Linked DNA regions of Homo sapiens: region 2 is linked to region 1. Evidence: fine-mapped expression QTL. Tissue or cell type: whole blood. Region 1 holds a variant in brackets; the other region holds the start of a gene. All regions are shown on one strand. Distances are between the middles of the regions.

Evidence for each region. PIP is the estimated chance that this variant, and not a neighbour inherited with it, causes the effect.
Region 2: it holds the start of TCAF1, and the variant in region 1 is fine-mapped to the expression of TCAF1 in whole blood (INTERVAL, PIP 0.94).

What each region holds. Positions count from the first base shown.
Region 1 is chr7:143,878,242-143,881,011 of GRCh38, reverse strand. All of the region lies in intron 1 of TCAF1 (TRPM8 channel associated factor 1), which reads left to right. Among named protein-coding and RNA genes, the nearest start is that of TCAF1, 23 kb to the left of the region's middle. The variant C/T (reference allele first, on the strand shown) is at 1,588.
Region 2 is chr7:143,900,674-143,903,443 of GRCh38, reverse strand. TCAF1 (TRPM8 channel associated factor 1) reads left to right here and starts at 1,268. Exons shown (of 9, transcript NM_014719.3): 1 at 1,268-1,483. It overlaps LOC105375549 (a long non-coding RNA gene), which reads right to left. Exons shown (of 3, transcript XR_007060574.1): 3 at 1,491-2,770. RefSeq lists a silencer at 1,108-1,247 and enhancers at 2,038-2,087, 1,763-2,300.

The sequences.
Region 1 (2,770 bases):
TTGGAGTTGGCTTTGGTTCCAGCAAGCTAAAAGGGGCCAGAGGTGGGCCCAGGAGAAAGAAAGCAGGAAGCATGGGAGGGGTTAGGGAGAGAAATGAAAGGACATTTCCCCCAGGTTTTATTCATTTGAGCTCACCAAGCTTGGAGGACAAACATGGATTCGGGCATAGAGAGGGAGCATTTGGTTCAAAAGTCAAGTGATGGAGTCACTGATAGCTGGTTAAAGTGGGGACACAACCAGCTGCAGAGTTCAAGGGACCCCCATAGAGGAGGAAATCAAATTTATAGATGGGCAGATGCACAACCTGATCAGAGATGGAGGAAGACCTTTTAGGTCCAGTGAGCCAGGATCAGTTGATCAGTCTACCTCATCATGTAAAAACTGTACCTAATCTTTTAATGTGTGTTTACATGCTTAACTGAATTTGTATTAACTCGGTGTTGTTTCTCATTGTAGTAGCAATACATACAACAATTCAAAGGATGCAGATTTGTATAAAGACAGAGAAAATGGTTCACCTCTTTCCTTCCTAATGTAATCAATGTGATTATGTTGAAATGTGGCCTCCATAGATTTTCAATGCATATAAAAGCCTGGTATGTAACAGGTACTTATGTATTCCTGGTGCTTAAGAGTATGGACTCCAGCACTGGGTTTCCTGGATTTGAATCCTAGATCCACCACCACTTAGCACCTGTGTGATTTTGAGCAAATAATTAATTCTCTGGGCATTATGATTTTGGAGTTTTTGTTTTGCCCATCCATAAAATGGGGATAGTGATAGTAAATATCTCATAGGTTTATTGTCAGCATTAAATAAGTTACAGAAATCACGTGTAGTAATGCCAGGAACCTGGTAAGCATTGTGTTGTTACTACTACTAATAATAATTACTACCACTACTAATTACAACTATTACTATTATCTTTGCCCATACAAAAATGACTTCATGTTCTGCATATCATAGTGACTTGAAATTTTCACTTGAAATGTATCTAGGACATTCTTCTAGGTGGATGTAAAATATATTCAACTCATCCTTGAACTAGCTCAGAAAACAACTAGTGAGACAGATATGTGAGGTCCCTGTTCTGCTTGTACTCGTGCCAGCGTTAGAGGCAGCAGAGGCTGAGGGAGAAGGGTTCTGATGGGCAACTCTTTAGTGGGTGTGTGTGGATAGATGGCTGGGGACAGTGCTACAGGGTCTTATGCTGGGTACAATGGGGTATCTGGGGGCTATGTGGAAGTTGGATAGGTGTGGGTTTGGGTTAGAGATCCTGCACCCACAAGAATCAAAAATGGTTCTAGGAAACATTCTTTGTCATTAGTCTATCTGTCTGTACTTCTAGGTTTTCATTTATCTCCCTTTGTAATTTTGTGTGGCAGTAAGCATCCTGTACGTATATCTTTGATACTGCCCTTCTTAGTTCTGTAAGAACGGTTATTAGAAGAAAGGTTGTTGGGTCTAAAGATAGGCACACCTTTGAAGCCAAGTAGGCACCATAAAATTGTTTTTGAAAAAGAGCGCAGACATTCTCCGTCATTCCTGCCGATTGTGATGGTCTTTTAAGTATTAAACATTATTAG[C/T]CTTTCAAATATTAAACTTTACTAGCCACCTTTGTCTTCTTCATCTTCATCTCCTTCCCCTTCTTCTCCTCCTCCACTTTCTCCTAGAAAGAAGTATCATCTTTTTTAACAATATTATGAGCAACACATGATATATTTTCCATTACTTGACTACTAGTGAGATTGAGCATTTTTTCCACACAAGTGGCCATTTATATTTTCTTTTCTGTGCCATATCTTCTCTTAGAAGGACAGGATTTCCGTAGATAGAAAGATTTGGGAGAGGGAACAGAATGGAAAGAGATTAGGAAGATAATCTAAAATGAAAACAGGGCATGTCCAAGGGCGCCTGGCAGACGGGATGCTGCAGGGAGAAAGGCAGCAGGAGAAAAGGCAGGAAAAGCCAGGGAGCAGCCAGCTCTGCAGGCAGTCCACACCAGGAGGCAGTAGATGGTCCCCAGAGACCAAGGTGGAGCTTTGAGATTAAATAACATGATTAGAGTGGTTTTAGAAAAGTAAAGGTGGGAAGAGGTCTTGGTAACTTAGAAATTGGGTCGGTTGAGTCCAGGCATGAATTACTAAGGACCTAAACTAGGTTAATGGCAGTGTGATTGGAAACCATGAACAAGGACATTAATAGGACTTGTGACCAGCTGGATATGGCAGCAGCAGGGAGAAGAGACATACTGTGACACTGTGCACTTTGCTATCCTGATTATTTGTGGGCATCAGGAGGAGCAGGGAAGAGACAAGCTTCTTGCTTACCAAATGTTCATATCAGTATCTTCTCAATAGTCCCCTGAGGTAGGTAGGTCATTAATGCTTCTGTTTAACTACTAGAAACGTTGAGCTTATGTAATTTGCCTTAAAAGAGCTCACTTAGAGGGAAATTAATAAATTCAAGACTTTTTTAGTTTAGAGACTGGCTATAAATGGCCAGTATGGTCTTGAACTTGTTACCTCAAGACTGGGGCTATTTTATCCTGGCTTGTGGAAGGCCCACAGCCTGTGTGAAGGGCTTTCTCAAGGGTACACAGAGATATATGAGAAATGAATGTAATAGTAATTAGCATTAGTGTTAGTGTTAGTATTAGTATGGTACCAAAATATGAAAACTATTAAATCAGAATCAATACATGCTCAATTCAGTGCTTGTAAAATCTATGTTAGGTTAAATTGTTTTTCCACTGCAAGAATTCTCTAT
Region 2 (2,770 bases), 22 kb before region 1:
AGGCTGGAGCCATGAGATTGCTGACTTTGAAGATGAAGGAAAGGGCTGCAAGCCAGGGAATGCGGGAGCCTCTGGAAGCTGGAAAAAGCAAGGAAAATAGATTTGTCCCTAGATCCTGCAAAGAGAAACACATCCCTGCCTACACCTGGATGATAGCCCAGTGAGACCTGTGCTGGACTTCCAGGACCTACAGTCCTGGAAGATAGTAGTAAATCTGTGTTGTTTTAAGCCACTAAATGTGTGAAAATTTATCACAGCAGCCTTAGCAATGAATACACTGCCCAACTTGTAAGCAGAGGATGTGGTGGCTTCAAAGTCCAGGCTTTTTCCCTGCTACTCCTTTCTTTCTTTCCTCCCTCATGCCCAATATCTGTCATCTGTTGATTGGTTAGTAACATTCTCAACGCCTTACTGTTTTATTAAACTTATAAAAACAATGTATTGGTTTAAAAAAAAACAATTCAGTGGTTGTGAAGGTAAGAATCAATAGACAATTTCTCCACCGTTAGCCCCGCCTCTTATAGAAGCACATGCAGCATGTCTTCTTCATACACGAATGTAATGCTAAAGCTGATGCAGTGGCTCAGGCCTGTGATCCCAGCACTTTGGGAGGCCGAGGCGGGAGGATCACTTGAGCCCTGGCGTTCGAGACCAGCCTGGGCAACAAAGTAAAACCCTGTCTCTAACAAAAAATCAAAAAGTTAGCTGGGCGTGGTGGCGGCGCACTTGTGGTCCCAGCCTCTGAGGTGGAAGGATCGCTTGAGCCTGGGAGGTTGAAGCTGCAGTGAGCTGTGATGGCACCACTGCACTCCAGCCTGGGTGGCAGAAGCAGACCCTCCCCCTGGAGGGGAGGGGAGGGGAGGGGAGGGGAGGGGAGGGGAGGGGAGGGGGAAAGAGAGATCCTACTCTCCATTTTAATACAACTTGCTTTTTTAATTAAAAACTATAGCTAGAACCGATAGATTTCACTCGTCCTTAAAAATAGTCCTGTATTATTTTATATAAACATCTCTCGCTATTTATCAAGGCCGTCACTTGTTCAGAAGTATTCTCACTTTTGTTTTGTTTTGTTTTGTTCTTAACAATTTGCTCCCTATATTCCTGGGCTGGCGCCTAGGCCTGCATCCGGGATTTGGCGCCACATCTGCGGGCAGGGCCTCTGAGGTCTAGGGGAGGGACGGCGCCGGCCAAGTCCCGCCCCCGTCCGCGTCGACCAATCAGCTCCCTGGAAGGCCCCTCCTCACCACCCCCCACCCCCGCAGTCTCCGCCTAAGACTTTCCAAGTCCTGTAGTTTCGAGCCCGCTGCCCTTTGCCTCCTGGGCGGAGAAGCTGCTTCCTCCTGGGAACAACCGCCTCCCGCTCCTAGCAGGTTGCTACTGCCCCGAACCCGCGCTGCAGGGAACAGCGGGGCAAACAGTGAGTGGGGTTCAGCGTAGACTCTGGACCAGGAGAGGCCCGCGGTGACCGAGGCCTGGGCCCCGGGTTAGTGTCCGGGGCGGGGAGCGGTGGGCGGGGTGCGACGTTTAGCGTCTGGGGAGGGCCGGGCGTGGATTGCGGCCTCTGCGCGCGCCCCCAGGTGATAGAGCCGTTCCACCGAGGATCCCTTCCTTCGTCTCTACCCCGTTGATGATTTTTCTCTGCAGCTCGGTGCCTATTTCATTCTCGCCGCATTGTTATGCCCTCTGCTGGGCAGGAGGCGATGACCCCCCCTATTTTCGTAGGATTTGTTTTTTGCTCCGCAAGGAGCCATTAAGATCTGAGCTAGCAGGAACCCTCGAGGCGATTTGATCTCGCCAGCTGGGGGCTTGCATTCTTCTAGGCTAGCTTGTCTCCGTTAAGCCCAGGTGGAAGTTCTCATCCACCCCAGTGCTCTAGGCGCCCACGGGCGCAGTGTGGGTTTGTGGTGGGGGAAGGGACCTGGGGAGGGGTGGCGGTGAGAGCGGCGCGGGGATTCAGGCTGAATGTTAGTCTGGAATGCATTTGGCCTGAAGCAGCAAGTGCTGGGTGATACAGTTCCCTGGTAAACAGCCGAGAGCTGGCCGCTAGTTTGGCCCAACCTGCAACGGAAGAAGGCCTTAAGTACAGGAGAAAAAGATCTTTGCCAATTGGATAATCATGGAAATTTAGAAGAAGTACAGCTCGAACTAGACGTAAAGGACAGAATGTGTCTGTCTAGCTGACCAGCCAACCATCGGTCCATCACTTTCATCCTCCAAACTAGTGATTTGTTGATGAATTGGTTTCAATACTTTGTTTTAAAATGTTGAATAAAAAGTAAATGAAATATCTCAGAATGGTCTAAAAAATAATGAAACGAATGCCTGACCATCTCCTTGGGTCAAGAAATAGGGCGTCACAGTACCTTAGAAGCCCATGAGTCCCAACTGATGCCCATGGTCCATTCTCCTCCATTCTCTGAGATGTGACATCTTTCGTGATTTTTGTCTTAATTTAATGAATCCCTTGCTTTTCTTTTTAGTTTTACCATATTTGTGTGTGTATTCCTAAAACATATGTATTGGCTTTCTCATTATAATGACATTATATTAATGACATTATCCTGTACGTATTCTTAAGTTTTATAGATTCATCTTTCATGCTTCCTTCCATTTTCGTTTTCGTCATTTAAGGTGTAAATGTACATAATTTATCCATTCTACTGCTGATGGACATTGGATTGTTTCTACTTTTGGAGGTGTATGATTTATCTATAAGCTATGTAACAAATTACCCCAACACCTAGCAGCTTCAAACCAAAGCGAACAAACA